2 separate regions of the Homo sapiens genome follow, and region 1 is linked to region 2. Evidence: fine-mapped expression QTL. Tissue or cell type: whole blood. Region 2 holds a variant in brackets; the other region holds the start of a gene. All regions are shown on one strand. Distances are from middle to middle.

Region 1 (8,105 bases), 44 kb after region 2:
GATAGGCCAAGCATCTAGTACATAGAGAAGAACAGTGAAATAGCTTTTGAAGTCCTACAGACCTTGGTTCAAATCGTAGATTCACCACTTACTAGCTTACTTACTAGCTTCTCTAATTTGTAAAACATATCGTTAGATTCTAAGTGTAGTAAAATTCCTGGCATATAGTAATTCCCAAAGGGAAGTTAACAGTATTATTATTATTAGGGATATGGGCGTTAGGGAGTAAAACTGACTATTGGAAACTTTTTTTTTTTAAGTATTACATGCTTTTTTTCTAATCTACCAACAGAAGCAAAAATCAAGATCTTTCTCCCTCAGGTTTTACTTCTCATTGACAAGAAGTAAACAGAACACCTAGTAAAGACAACTGAATTAGAAAACATTTAAGGCTGTAAAGCACTAAAGAACCCAGAGAAAGTCCACTAGGTCTATAAATCATAGAACACTGTCTATAAAACAGGATCTTAAAAGTTGGAAAGGTCCTTAGATCAGCTAATTCAAACTCCTCTAGCAGAAATAAGTTCCAGGTTTTGTCTCCAAGGTCAAAGAATTGTTAACTATTTTTGTTCATGAGTATATATATCCTCAGTACCTAGAGTAATTCCTAGCACATACTGAATGCTCAGCAAATGTTTGTTGAGTCTCTTTTAAAGTTAAGAAAACTGAGGCCTGGATATTTAACCCAAACCCATACAGTTAGCTGTGGCCAAAGCAGAACTGGAACTAACATTTTGGTACTCTAGCATTCTATCATCTCTAGAAGCTAGACTATAATAATTTAGATAATTTATTTTGGTGGCTGGGGAGTTGAAGGGTTGGTTGGCAAGCTTGGAAAAAGGAAGGAAGGCATAAGCTAAAACATTTTTCACATTTTTTCCCCAAACTCAGTTTTGCTTAATTGGTAAAGGCAAGAAATTATAAACACGATAATCCCAGTACAATGTCTAGTACATAATAGGTACTATAAAAATATTTGCTGAATGAAAATCATCAACATATGAACAGAAGCAGAAATTAACTTGAGCATGTTTAATCTCCATAACTGTTATAGAACCCTTTAGAGCTTTCAGTCATTCCTACAACAGTTATTAATTACTTTCTTCCAGATAGGTACCATGGGAGAAAGATGGATTAAAAGATGTCCCTGCCCTGAATGAGCTCTCACTTGAGTATGCCTATGTCTAAATGTGTGTGCTGGGAGAGTGGGCAGGGTGGGGGGAACAGAGGATGACAAACGGGTCAGTAATGAATGTGAAACCAGGCTGCATTGTTATCTTAGTGTATTGGGCTCAGGCAGTTATAAAAAAATTAAATTAAATTTAAAAACCACAAATCTGCAAAGTTTTGAAGTAACAAGGAGGCACATTAGGGTATACTAGCAACTGGAAATGTTATTTTTTCGTGTGCCTTCGTAATCCCTCTTATTGCCTCTTCATGTTTTAAAATCAGAATATTCTGAATTTACTTATTTGAATTATCAATAAAAATTAACCACCAATGTATATTATCTCATATGTGAGGCACTGAAGGATAATAGCTACTACTGATTCCGTACTTACTGTGTACACATTAATACCTAAATATATAACCCAAGAACATATGTAAATTTTTTAAATGGCTATAAAACTGACAGAGCTTGAAGCAATTCTCCAGAGATGAATGATGTAAATAGAAGCTAAAAACATGGTATTACCCAGGGAGAGAATAAAGTATGCACACAACTGAGAAGCAATTTTACGGAAGTCTTTAAGAGCACAAAATCTTCAAGGGAAAACTCCTGCCAGAATTGGCCAACAGAGCCAGAAAACAACAGCCTGCCAACAGGGATCTTGTTTAATGCAAGTCACTAACTAGACTCACAGAAAGTGAATACCTAAAAGTCAGTGCTGTAGTTGTTCAAATTTGAGTTTTGGGAGGACCCTTCCAAACATACATAACCAAGACTAAACCACCACATTCCATGTTAAAGGGTTCTCTGCTTGTCAGAACAGGACAACCACCACCACCATCAAAAAAACTGGGAAATAGACTTTCCTTATGACACTTAGAATTCCTGCAAACACGGGTTAGTTATTTTACATGAAGCATGTACGTGACTCCTGGTTTCTGAGAAAACATTTTTTTCTCTCTATCCTACAGTGCTAGGCAAAGCACCCCAAAGCCTCTTGATTTTAAACACAGAAAACTCCACTGCCGAAATGTTTGCCCTATCCCAGCGCTAAAGCCTTAGAAGCACCGACGAATCTAGGCCAAGGAGTACAAGATGGCAGTGAGATACCACAATGCAGGCAAGGAAGACGGGATGGGCCCCAATCGGGAAGCACGCGCCACCAGCTCTGGAGAGAACCGTCTGAGGAGACGCGGGGGAGAGTTTGGGTCACAGGAGCAGGAAGGAACTGGCAGGTGTCTGTCACCTTATCATCCCGGACACCATGTTTACATTGTAATTGGCTTCTTTACAGAGAGGGAGGGACCAGGTTCCCAGTGTGAGTGATGTTTAGAGGTTTTCTGAGAAGCACAAGGACTGGACTTTGACAGGAAGCAACGAGGCAAGAGGGAAGCTCGAGAACAGGTTTTGCTGAGGATTCCCCCCAAGAAAAGTGCTCCCCGGGAGGCCGTTCCTGGCACCAAGACTGGCGGAGCCACCACACCCGTTAAAGGGATCCACCTGGACAGCGATCAGGCGTGAGCCCCCCGAGGGGAAGTTGAAGTGGAAGCAGACGTGGGTGGCAAAAGGCTGCATTGGGGGTCTGACCCAGAAGGAAACCTGATCAGGAGGGGGGAGAGGCTGAACGGAGGAAGGGGCCGGCAGAGTGGGTAGTTGAGTAGGATGAGACTTCTTTGGAGGCGAGGCTAACTACATTAAACTCTGGGAAGGGAGGGCTTCCGTCGGACCCTGGGAGAAAGGCAGGTCTGGAGAGGAAAGACTGGCTTGGGGGGCCTGCGCGTCCGGCTCTGGAAGGCAACTCCTACTGGGGGCGGCGCGCAGCCGGCCTGGCGGGCGAGCCTCGTGCGGCCCGGGGGTGCGGCCGGCCCGCGCGAGCTCAACAGGAGCTCACCTGGGATGCGTGCGGCCCTGTGGGAGGAAACTTCCTGGGTAGGTGAAAGCTGCCCCGCGGGAGCCGGCCCGGCACCGGCAGAGCGCGGCCGGGTCACAGTCCACTCGGCAGCGGCGCGGAGGGCGGCGAGGGCCGCGCGGGGCGGGGCAGGAGGCGCCCGACGACCCTGGGCGAGGTCGCGGCGGCCGCAGGGGGGCTCCGGCTCCGGAGGGCGCCCTCCCGCAGTCGCACCCGCTTTCCCTCACACACACCGGCCGCCCGGCCCACAAGCCAAGAAGCTGCCTGCTTGGCCCACAAGCCAAGAAGTCGGCGAAGCTGAGGGCGGTGGGGGAGGGGGCACCGGCCGGCCAAGCCCGGCGGACGGGCGTGTGGCGTTACCTGTGTCAGAGAGAGCTGGGCCGCCGCAGCCATGGTGTTTCCATCATGCAAGGGAGGGGAAGGAAGACGGGCTGACTGGGGCTCGGGGCGGGGAGGAGGCGGAGGGAGCGGCCGCAGGCGAGGCCGGGGCGGGCGGGCGGGCGTCTCCCCTAACTTCCACAACTTCCCTCCCCACGCCCGCCCCGCCCCGCCTGGCCCCGCCCGCCTGCCCGCCCGCCGGAGCCGGCCGCGGCGCCGCCCAAACCCTGGCGCCGGAGTCTCGGCCACCGGACCAGAGCCTGCCCCCGGGGCCGCCTTGGAAAACCCGGCGCGGACATAAAATTAAAGCGGACGGGCTGCGGAGGCGACTGCAGATTGACCTGTGAACTTCAGACAGGCCACCTACCTACGCTGAGCTCCTGCTTCTGAAAAATGGGGGAAATTGTAACTAGAGGCCCAGTTACTTACAAAGACTAAATGAGATAATGATAGAAAATAATAATGGCACTTTATATATGCCAGGCTCTGTACTAGACTCTTATTTTTTGAATTGTATGAATGAAGGAACTGAAACACAAATAAGTGTCTTACTAAGGTCATACAGCTAATTATATAGCTGAATTAGAATCCAAGTCTAACTGTAAATATTTAACCATCTGCTAGTATATTGGAAAAGAAGACATTAAGTCATTCCCTCCCACAGCCAAAATCCATTTGGAAAGGGGAAGCAAAAATGTATTTGCCTGGTGCCTGTCACATTTAGATTGTTTAACAAGGGAACGCTGGTGCCTGTAGCACTCCTAGCTTCTCCCATCATCCACTTAGCAAACTCCTCCTTCTTTCTCAGGACATAATTCAAGTTTCACCTCCTTTGCAAAGTATCTTTTTCTCTTCCTTATGTCAGAGTTACACACTCTCCTTTATAACCTTTCTTCTCTACCTTGTGAAGTCATCACCCTAATGACAGTTTACACCTATCTATCCCTCTAGATTAAGAGCTCCTCAATGGCAAGAACTGTTTTCAATATATTTCTATATCGTCAGACCCTAGCATTACAGTGCATGCTCAGTAAAGGCCTTCGTTCCTGCCTATATTAAACATAACACATCCTACACCTTCTGATGCTGCCAACCTTCAGTTGGAATACCCAGTTACTTGAAATTCATCTTCAAAGTCTCAGAGTATATACCACCTACTTCAAGAAGCCTTCTAGGAACTCCACACCCCACCTCTAAGTTGTTCTGATGTGACCGTTTTTATACTCTGCCTTATCTGTAAGCGTTAGTTGAGGGTTTGTCTCCACCTCACTGCACTGTAAAATCCTTGAGGACAAGGGGCTGACTCACTGCTTTATCTCCCTCATAGTTTAGCCTACCACAGAGGCCTCAATAAATGTATTTGCCCGAATTGGTCTTAATTTCTTAGTCACGATGGCTTCCCATTACAACAAACCACAACTCTATCAGGCCTACACCCATTACCATTATCATAGCAGTCCCCGTGGTAGGAGGGACAACTGAACAAGACCCAGGATGGAGTTAGCCCCACCTAAGTTTTTAGACTATTGCCTCCACAAGCAAACCATTCCAGAAATTTCCCAAGGAACTCCTAATTCTACTCAGACTCCTTCTGGCAAAGGCCAGCTAACAAGAGCAAGCCATATAGGTCTGGTGAGTAACCACTTATTCAAGAGCATCTTCCTTGGCTTCTTTTTTGCTGCTAATCTCTTTAACTGAAGAGAGAATAAGAGATACTGTTTTACATTACTTCACTTTGGTACACTTATCAGCCATAACCACAACCGGTGTTTCTACCGGTGTTTTCTACTTTATATTAGCACATTTGAGCTTCACAACTCTAAAAGGAAGTAATCGTCATACTCACTTTACAAATGAGGTAATGCAGGGTCACAGAGGCTAAGTGATTTGCCCAGGGTTATACAACTGATAGACAAAGCAGCATAGTATAGTGAAATAAATAGGACTCAGACATTAGGAATATCCAGGTTCCATTCCTGGCTCTCCCATTCACTAGTTGTATGCCCTTAGGGTTGTTGTGAGGATGAATGAGATGACATATACAAAAGTGCCTAAACTTGTAGCTACACAAATTATGAAATCTGAAAATCATGGAGCAAATCGCTTTGGGGAGTATAATTTCACTTGCTATTCAAGGGGACTCCTCCAAACCATATGAGATGTAAGATATTCCTCTCAGATGAATAAGGTGGAAACCCTGCCATGTAGTTTCCGGAAAGGCAGTGCAGAGTAGCAAAGAGAATATTAAGAATCAGAGTGTGACCGCAGGCAAACCATTTAACCTCTTTGAGCTTCAGTTTCTCATACAGGAAAAGTAAGGAATTATTACTGTTTTAACTTTTATATGATTTATATTAAGTCAAAAGCACACCTTACCCAGGCATGGTGGCACATGCCTATAGTCCCAGCTACACAGGAGACTGAGGCAGTTGCACAGAGCACGAATTCAGCCTGAGCAACATAGAGAGACCCCATCTCTAATAAATAAATAACACCTTGTATGTATACAGTATTGCTTTTCACCGTTTATAAATGTTTTTATTTTATTTTTATTTTTTTGAGACAAGGTCTCACTCTGTCACCCAGGCTGGAGTGCAACGGTGCAATCTCGGCTCACTGCAACCTCCACCTCCTGGGTTCAAGCGATTCTTGTGCCTCAGCCTCCTGAGTAGCTAGGATTACAGGCACCCGCCACCACACCAGCTAATTTTTTTTTTTCTAGTAGAGACAGGGTTTCACCGTGTTGGCCAGGCTGGTCTCGAACTCCTGACCTCAAGTGATCTGCCTGCCTCGGCTTCCCAAAGTGCTGGGATTACAGGCGTGAGCCACCGTGCCCGGCCAAATGTTTAGAAGCACAACTTCTAATGTTCAGTAAGTACATTATAAAAGTTTGTTGAATTGAACTGAATACAATCTCATATATAATTGTTATTTGGATCTTCACTTTATCCCCATAAGAAAATCAAGGAACAAATATTTTATAAATTTATTTTATAAATAGCTTCTATAAGTAAGAGCCATTGACAGCAGGCTTGGGTCTTGGTTAACAAAAAATAAAAAGAATCAGATGCCCTAGCAAGGGAAGACTTGCTTAAAATCTTTATATGGGAATTGCCCCACGTCCCCTTCCAGACCACTAGTAATTTGTAGTGGCTTCTTTCTTCATTCGTAGGTTCTGGTTTAAATTAATGACATGTAATGGGAGATGGGAGCATGTCTATAGGGAAGAGAATAATGGGCCAAATTCCCAAAAAAGGCCTAGAACTTCTGAGAGAGGTGTTTTTGTTTGTTTGTTTGTTTGTTTGTTTTAATGACAAACCAATGACAATTTGCAAATGTGTGGCCCAGATCTCGTCAGAGCACTGGGTCATATCCCAAATCTATTTTAGGAGAGGAAAAATGTAGCCAATCGAATATATGTTATAATCTAATTCATTATAACAAGAATGAGTTGCATGGAGCAGACAAGAAGAATTTATCTGTTTTTTCTAGGACAACTTAATGTCTCTGGGTCACTAAGCCTCATTTTCCTCATGATTACATTGAAGATAATAATATCTACTTTGTATGGATGGTTTAAGGATTAGAGCTCATGTATAATGGCCTATCAGAGAGACTGGCCTGGAATAGATGTTCAATAAGTAGCAGCTATAAGATACCATTCTTCAAGATCACCATTTAACTCTCTACCCTTCAGGCAACCCTCCAACAACTAAGTTGGTTTGACAGATATATTAGTTACATGAATGGGTCTGCCAGACCAGACCAGGTGGCTCACATTTGTAATTTTAGCACTCTGGAAGGCCGAGGCAGGAGGATTGCATGAGCCCAGGAGTTCAAGACCAGCCTGGGCAACATAGTGAGACCTCGTCTCTATTTTTTTAAAATCAATCAAATAAAAATAAATAAATAAATAAGAATAAGGGTGCTTTGAACAACTGACATATCCCTGTCATTGAAAAAGTAGATGTTCCCTAGGTAAACAAAGTTGTATCTGATGACTTAAATCTGAATACTAATAACCAACAATTGCTGTTTTCTTTTTTTTGTTTTATTTATTTATTTATTTTATTTGAGACAGTGTCTTGCTATGTTGCCTAGGCTGGTCTTCAACTCCTGGGCTCAAGTCATCCTCCTGCCTCAGCCTCCCAAAGTGCTGGGATTATAGGTGTGAGCCACCGCACCCAGACAAATTGCTGCTTTAATGTGCATTATTTCATTTATTCCTCAAAACAGCTCTACAAGGGTTATTTTTAATCTTTTTTTTTTAACAGAAGAAGAATTTGTCCAAATTCATAATGACAAAGCTGGGAATTATACACAATTATACACGGGTCTTCTGATTCAAATGCGCTTTTTCCTGGGGTGTGTTGCTGGTGTCCTGCAGACATTAATCACCACCCAGGAAGACTTGTTAAAATTTTGCCCTTGAACATGGGAAGCTGAAGATGAGGCTCTGGATTTACGATAGCCCTAAATCCAGGATGAGCCTAAAGAGAAGACCTTAAATCATAAACAGCTTTGTCACCAATCATCTTTCTATCCTACTCTAACTCCAACCCCCCTCCCCAACCCATCCTTAAAGGAAATCAAAACTACTTTTATTTTCTTATTTTCTAGCTTTTAGAGGCAGTTGTCATATCAACG
Region 2 (8,105 bases):
TAAGACTTATATTAACATCTAGTGATTGGAAATACTTTGTTACACACTTGCCCTAGGCAAAACTCTAATGTTGGTAAAAACCAATTCTTGGCTTCAAAATACAAGAAAACCCTGCTGGCTATTTTTTATTTTGAATCACTCAAAAAAAAAATCATATGAATATCTGAAACTTACTTGTTTGTTCAGGATACCTTTGCCATCTGTGTCGGCTAAATCCCAAATCTGAAATTTAGGGGGAAAAAATATCAATGTATATTTTAAACAAAAGTCATCTGAATGATAAATTAAATCTCTGCTATTTACAACCTCAGGCTCTCTGGTAATCAGATCTAAGAATCATAGAATTAAGAGTGGAAAGAACCCTTAAAGATCATTTAGTGCAAACTTGTCCAACTTGCAGCCCACAGGCCACATGCAGCCCAGGACAGCTTTGCACGTGGCCCAACACAAATCCATAAACTTTCTTTAAGAAATTATGAGGGTTCTTTTATGATTTTTTTTTTTTTTGATCATCAGCTATCATTAGTGTTAATGTATTTTATGTGTGGCCCAAGACAATTCTTCTTCTTTCAATGTGGCCCACGGAAGCCAAAAGATTGGGCACCCCTGATTTAGTGCAACCCTTCACAAAGATACTAAGGCCCAATGAGGGTAAGTGACTTAGCTCAAGAACATTCAAGGCACCAGGGAAAGAAGTGAAGCCTAAGTTCTAACTTCCAGTCACATGCCTTTTTCATTAATCCAAGTTCTAACTCTGAGACCAATGCTCTTTCTACTAGAATGTACATACTATTCTTGATTTTGGATCCTTAAGATATTCTTTTCTATGTGCAAGTTGAGATGATTGATATTTGTGAATAATTAAATTATTGTGATTATTTTTCAGGATTCTGAATATATATCAATATCACATATAAGGAGTAGACAGGGGAGGGGCTTTCCACCTCTTTGTGCTCTTTTTAAAAAGCCTCTCATCCCCCAGTCTATTTACCACACATTAAACAGAGACAGTTATAACAGAGGAAGTAGGGATAGAGCCAAGTCTTTGAGTGTGTGGCAAGATTCCCAGTCTTCACTGTTTCTCCCCACCAAATGTACTTATTACTTCCTCATTTTATCCTATTAAAAAGTAGTTTGTTTCTAAAAATCTGAAAAACACCTTACTTTTCAAGAGGGTAAATCACTACGCTACAAATTCCCTTCATCCTACTATTAAAATGGCTTCTATGACTCGGTTCTAACTTCTAAATTTCTTGATGGCATCTTTCTAAATTTGCATCCAGTTCATCTATAGTACACATTCCTTACAAACTTATAATCTAGTTATAATGAACGAATACTACCTTTCCAAGTATCAAGTCTGGAAGCCCTGATTTTTTCAGGAAAGCAGCAGCATCAGAAGCCAACACCCTTCCAGTATTGCCTGTATCAACCTGAAAAGATACAAATCCGTAAGTTGACAACAAAATACAAAAGGCAAAATTATCACCATTTACCTGCCTTCCATCCCTGTGATTTGGGACCTGGCTTTTGCAAGAAAGGAATGAGAATCCTTTGACTACCATGGGCCAAAGAATATGTGGACAGACATATGAGTAGTACTATCTAGACAGCACTGGCAATTTACAAAGTGGTTTTTGTTTTATCATGCCCTACCATACAAATGAGAAAAGTGAAGCTCAGAGGATTGTCAAAGCAAATTCGTGGGGTTGTAACATCAACACATATCTTCTATAGCTGTCATTTAAATTCCAATTAAATGGCACTAGGAAGAAAGGAGCAGCATTTCCTACAGAGGTCTTCTGACAAATGGGAATAGTTGCACATGTTATGTGCCTCTTCAAACATCTTTCAATCATCAACTTTCACTTTTATACCTACTCTTAGGAACTGCAGCACTTTAAAACAAATCAAAGCAATAGCAGCTCTAAAACCAGCAGTGATTCCAAAATAAACTTGAAGAAACCTTTTTAAAGCTGTTAAGTTCCTAAAACATATTAGGGAACATACCATTTTAACTGACCAGGGACTTTCCTTTAAGACAGAATGAGGTCACAAGAACAGAAACAAACAAACAAACAAACAACAACAACAACAAAAACAGGAAAAAAAAGACTCATTTTTGTAAAGATTTCCTAAAGTTCCATTTGTAAAAATGAAAAGTACATTTTAAAAAGTCATGGGAAAGGTAACAGGATAATAGTATATTTGTGAGATATCTGTTTTTCCAGTTTAGTTAAAAGATTAAGTTTACTGTAAACATATACTGTACAAAGCATTCTAGACAGTCCAATCCTAGCAAAGAAGCAAAAGGGAAAACCTTTCTTTCAAGTGGTACAACATGGGAAAAATCATGCACTCAGCAAAAAAGAAAAACATGGCCTAATCCTTCAAATTTGGAATAAGAGGAAGTATAAGGATTGGGAAACCTGCCTGTAGAATTCTTCAGAACTCCTTTTCTTTGCCTACTTCCTGATCAGCATACAAAACAAATATCCATACCCAACACAGCCTACTAAATATAGAAGCATTCAGGGGAAACATTGATCAAACTCTTATGAAATCATTATGTACTGTATCCCAATTAAGAATTTTACTATCTTCCATTCTTTTGGTTACCCTAATAATATAAACATTTAGTCTTTGTCATCTACAGGCAGTTTCTGAGGTATTCTGCTGCTTGCCTAAAGGCTCTGCCATAGGCAAAGCCAGAAGCTATAGGCCAGAAGCTGATATATCTTCAACAAAGAGTCTTAGAGCCTCATGAAAATGACTATACTTTTGATATAGTCTGTATCTATAAGACATACATAGTCTGAATTATTAACATTTCAAAAAGTGGATTTTTGGATAAAGACTACTCAGCTGACATCACACTACTTTCAGACCATATTGGTAGATGAAGTCAGGATTTCCAGGACTCTTTTCAGTCTGAAAGAAGATGTACTTCATAAAAGCAGACTTCTAATCCGAGATTCAGCTGAACAAGAATTACACAGGACTGAATGAACTGTTGAGGAAAATTTAATTATAGTTATTTACTTGGAATACTGTTGGTATTATTTTAATGTTCTATTTTCTAATAGCTATGTGCATAAGCCCTTTCTGAGACCCTCAACTTAGTAGCCTCTGCTTTTGTAAACCAAATGAAATAGTTTTCTTTTTTTATTATTATTATTATTATACTTTAAGTTCTAGGGTACATGTGCACAACATGCAGGTTTGTTACATATGTATACATGTGCCATGCTGGTGTGCTGCACCCATTAACTCGTCATTTACATTAGGTATATCTCCTAATGCTATCCCTCCCCCCTCCCCCCAACCCACAAAAGGCCACGGTGTGTGATGTTCCCCACCCTGTGTCCAAGTGTTTTCATTGTTCAATTCCCACCTATGAGTGAGAACATGCGGTGTTTGGTTTTTTGTCCTTGCGATAGTTTGCTCAGAATGATGGTTTCCAGCTTCATCCACATCCCTACAAAGGACATGAACTCATCCTTCTTTATGGCTGCATAGTATTCCATGTTGTATAAGTGCCACATTTTCTTAATCCAGTCTATCATTGATGGACATTTGGGTTGGTTCCAAGTCTTTGCTACTGTGAATAGTGCCGCAATAAACATATGTGTGCATGTGTCTTTATAGCAGCATGATTTATAATCCTTTGGGTATATACTCAGTAATGGGACGGCTGGGTCAAATGGTATTTCTAGTTCTAGATCCTTGAGGAATCGCCACACTGTCTTCCACAATGGTTGAATTAGTTTACACTCCCATCAACAGTGTAAAAGTGTTCCTATTTCTCCACATCCTCTCTAACATCTGTTTCCTGACTTTTTAATGATCGCCATTCTAACTGGTGTGAGATGGTATCTCACTGTGGGTTTTATTTGCATTTCTCTGATGACCAGTGATGACAAGCATTTTTTCACGTGCCTGTTGGCTGCATAAATATCTTCTTTTGAGAAGTGTCTGTTCATATCCTTCGCCTACTTTTTGATGGGGTTGTTTGATTTCTTCTGGTAAATTTGTCTAAGTTCTTTGTAGATTCTGGATATTAGCCCTTTGTCAGATGGGTAGATTGTAAAAATTTTCTCCCATCCTGTAGGTTGCCTGTTCACTCTGATTGTAGTTTCTTTTGCTGTGTGGAAGCTCTCTAGTTTAATTAGATACCATTTATCAATTTTGACTTTTGTTGCCATTGCTGTTGGTGTTTTAGTCATGAAGTTCTTGCCCATGCCTATGGCCTGAATGGTATTGCCTAGGTTTTCTTCTAGGGTTTTTATGGGTTTTAGGTCTAACATTTAAGTCTTTAATCCA[T/C]CTTGAAATAATTTTTGTAGAAGGTGTAAGGAACGGATCCAGTTTCAGCTTTCTACATATGGCTAGCCAGTTTTCCCAGCACCATTTATTAAATAGGGAATCCTTTCCCCATTTCTTGTTTTTGTCAGGTTTGTCAAAGATCAGATGACTGTAGATGTGTGGTATTATTTCTGAGGGCTCTGCTCTGTTCCATTGGTCTATATCTCTGTTTTGGTACTAGTCCCATGCTGTTTTGGTTACTGCAGCCTTGTAGCATAGTTTGAAGTCAGGTAGTGTAATGCCTCCAGCTTTGTTCTTTTTGCTTAGGATTGTCTTGGCAATGTGGGCTCATTTTTGAGCCAATGTGGAACCATTTTTGGTTCCATATGAACTTTAAAGTAGTTTTTTTCCAATTCTGTGAAGAAAGTCATTGGTAGCTTGATGGGGATGGCACTGAATCTAAATTACCTTGGGCAGTATGGCCATTTTCATGATATTGATTCTTCCTATCCATGAGTATGGAATGTTCTTCCATTTGTTTGTGTCCTCTTTTATTTCGCTGAGCAGTGGCTTATACTTCTCCTTGAAGAGGTCCTTCACCCTCTTGGGAGCGTGTATGTGTTGAGGAATTTACCCATTTCTTCTAGATTTTCTAGTTTATTTGCATAGAGGTGTTTATAGTAGTCTCTGATGGTATTTTGTATTTCTGTGGGATCAGTGGTGATATTCCCTTTATCATTTTTTATTGCGTCTATTTGATCCTTCTCTCTTTTCTTCTTTATTAGTCTTGCTAGCGGTCTATCAATTTTGTTGATCTTTTCAAAAAACCAGCTCCTGGATTCATTGATTTTTTGAAGGGTTTTTTGTGTCTCTATTTTCTTCAGTTCTGCTCTGATCTTAGTTATTTCTCATTGGTTCCATTTATATGCTGGATTATGTTTATTGATTGCATATGTTGAACCAGCCTTGCATCCCAGGGATGAAACCCATTTGATCATGGTGGATAAGCTTTATGATGTGCTGCTGGATTCGGTTTGCCAGTATTTTATTGAGGATTTTTGCATGGATGTTCATCAGGGATATTGGTCTAAAATTCTCTTTTTTTGTTGTGTCTCTGCCAGGTTTTGGTATCAGGATGATGCTGGCCTCATAAAATGAGTTAGGGAGGATTCCCTCTTTTTCTATTGATTGGAATAGTTTCAGAAAGAATGGTACCAGCTCCTCTTTGTACCTCTGGTAGAATTCGGTTGTGAATCCATCTGGTCCTGGACTTTTTTTGGTTGGTAAGCTATTAATTATCGCCTCAATTTCAGAGCCTGTTATTGGTCTATTCAGAGATACAACTTCTTCCTGGTTTAGTCTTGGGAGGGTGTAGTGTCCAGGAATTTATCCATTTCTTCTAGATTTTCTAGTTTATTTGCATAGAGGTGTTTATAGTAGTCTCTGATGGTAGTTTGTATTTCTGTGGGATCGGTGGTGGTATCCCCTTTATCATTTTTTATTGTGTCTATTTGATTCTTCTCTCTCTGCTTCTTTATTAGTTTTGCTAGTGGTCTATCAATTTTGTTGATCTTTTCAAAAAACCAGCTTCTGGATTCCCTGATTTTTTGAAGGGTTTTTTGTGTCTCTATTTCCTTCAGTTCTGCTCTCATCTTAGTTATTTCTTGCCTTCTGCTAGCTTTTGAATGTGCTGGCTCTTGCTTCTCTAGTTCTTTTAATTGTGATGTTAGGTTGTCAATTTTAGATCTTTCCTGCTTTCTCTTGTGGGCATTTAGTGCTATAAACTTTCCTCTACACACTGCTTTGAATGTGTCCCAGAGGTTCTGGTATGTTGTGTCTTTGTTCTCGTTGGTTTCAAAGAACATCTTTATTTCTGCCTTCATTTCATTATGTACCCAGTAGTCATTCAGGAGCAGGTTGTTCAGTTGCCATGTAGTTGAGTGGTTTTGAGTGAGTTTCTTAATCCTGAATTCTAGTTTGATTGCACTGTGGTCTGAGAGACAGTTTGTTATAATTTCTGTTCTTTTACATTTGCTGAGGAGTGCTTTACTTCCAACTATGTGGTCAATTTTGGAATAGGTGTGGTGTGGTGCTGAAAATAATGTATATTCTGTTGATTTGGGGTGGAGAGTTCTGTAGAGGTCTATTAGGTCCGGTTGGTGCAGAGCTGAGTTCAATTCCTGGATATCCTTGTTAACTGTCTGTCTCACTGATCTGACTAATGTTGACAGTGTGGTGTTAAAGTCTCCCATTATTACTGTGTGGGAGTCTAAGTCTCTTTGTAGGTCTCTAAGGACTTGCTTTATGAATCTGGGTGCTCCTGTATTGGGTGTATATATATTTAGGATAGTTAGCTCTCCTTGTTGAATTGATCCCTTTACCATTATGTAATGGCCTTCTTTGTCTCTTTTGATCTTTGTTGGTTTAAAGTCTGTTTTATCAGACACTAGGATTGCAACCCCTGCTTTTTTTTTGTTTTCCATTTGCTTGGTAGATCTTCATCCATCCCTTTATTTTGAGCCTATGTGTGTCTCTGCACATGAGATGGGTCTCCTGAATACAGCACACTGATGGGTCTTGCCTCTTTATCCAGTTTGCCAGTCTGTGTCTTTTAATTGGAGCATTTAGCCCATTTACATTTAAGGTTAATATTGTTATGTGTGAATTTGATCCTGTCATTATGATGTTAGCTGGTTGTTTCGCTTGTTAGTTGATGCAGTTTCTTCCTAACCTTGATGGTCTTTACAATTTGGCATGTTTTTGCAGTGGCTGGTACCGGTTGTTCCTTTCCATGTTTAGTGCTTCCTTCAGGAGCTCTTGTAAGGCAGGCCTGGTGGTGACAAAATCTCTCAGCATTTGCTTGTCTGTAAAGTATTTTATTTCTCCTTCACTTATGAAGCTTAGTTTGGCTGGATATGAAATTCTGGGTTGAAAATTCTTTTCTTTAAGAATGTTGAACATTGGCCCCCACTCTCTTCTGGCTGGTAGAGTTTCTGCCAAGAGATCAGCTGTTAGTCTGATGGGCTTCCCTTTGTGGGTAACGCGACCTTTCTCTCTGGCTGCTCTTAACATTTTTTCCTTCATTTCAACTTTGGTGAATCTGACAATTATGTGGTCTTGGAGTTGCTCTTCTCGAGGAGTATCTTTGTGGCATTCTCTATATTTCCTGAATTTGAATGTTGGCCTGCCTTGCTAGGTTGGGTAAGTTCTCCTGGATAATATCCTGAAGAGTGTTTTCCAACTTGGTTCCGTTCTCCCCATCACTTTCAGGTACACCAATCAGACGTAGATTTGGTCTTTTTACATAGTCCCATATTTCTTGGAGGCTTTGTTCGTTTCCTTTTACTCTTTTTTCTCTAAACTTCTCTTCTCGCTTCATTTCATTCGAGCTTCAACCACTGATACCTTTTCTTCCACTTGATCGAATTGGCTACTGAAGCTTGTGCTTGCGTCACGTAGTTCTCGTGCCATGGTTTTCAGCTCCATCAGGTCATGTAAGGTCTTCTCTACGCTGTTTATTCTAATTAGCCATTCGTCTAATCTTTTTTCAAGGATTTTAGCTTCTTTGCAATGGGTTCGAACATCCTCCTTTAGCTCAGAGAAGTTTGTTATTACTGATCGTCTGAAGCCTAGTTCTGTCAGCTTGTCAAAGTCATTCTCCATCCAGCTTTGTTCCATTGCTGGCGAGGAGCTCTGTTCCTTTGGAGGAGAAGAGGTGCTCTGATTTTTAGAATTTTCAGCTTTTCTGCTCTGGTTTCTCCCCATCAATAGTATCTGATTCTCACTGACTCCTCAGAATTCAA

Evidence for each region. PIP is the estimated chance that this variant, and not a neighbour inherited with it, causes the effect.
Region 1: EPS15 starts here. The variant in region 2 is fine-mapped to the expression of EPS15 in whole blood (INTERVAL, PIP 0.97).

Annotation. Positions count from the first base shown.
Region 1 is chr1:51,515,759-51,523,863 of GRCh38, forward strand. EPS15 (epidermal growth factor receptor pathway substrate 15) reads right to left here and starts at 3,508. Exons shown (of 25, transcript NM_001981.3): 1 at 3,441-3,508. The coding sequence starts at 3,473. It overlaps EPS15-AS1 (EPS15 antisense RNA 1), which reads left to right and starts at 2,514. Exons shown (of 5, transcript NR_183651.1): 1 at 2,514-2,688. It also overlaps a transcript of OSBPL9 not described here. RefSeq lists an enhancer at 2,763-3,691 and silencers at 2,922-3,391, 3,542-3,731.
Region 2 is chr1:51,471,516-51,479,620 of GRCh38, forward strand. EPS15 (epidermal growth factor receptor pathway substrate 15) reads right to left here. Exons shown (of 25, transcript NM_001981.3): 3 at 1,344-1,433; 4 at 175-222. Among named protein-coding and RNA genes, the nearest start is that of EPS15-AS1, 43 kb to the right of the region's middle. The variant T/C (reference allele first, on the strand shown) is at 4,324.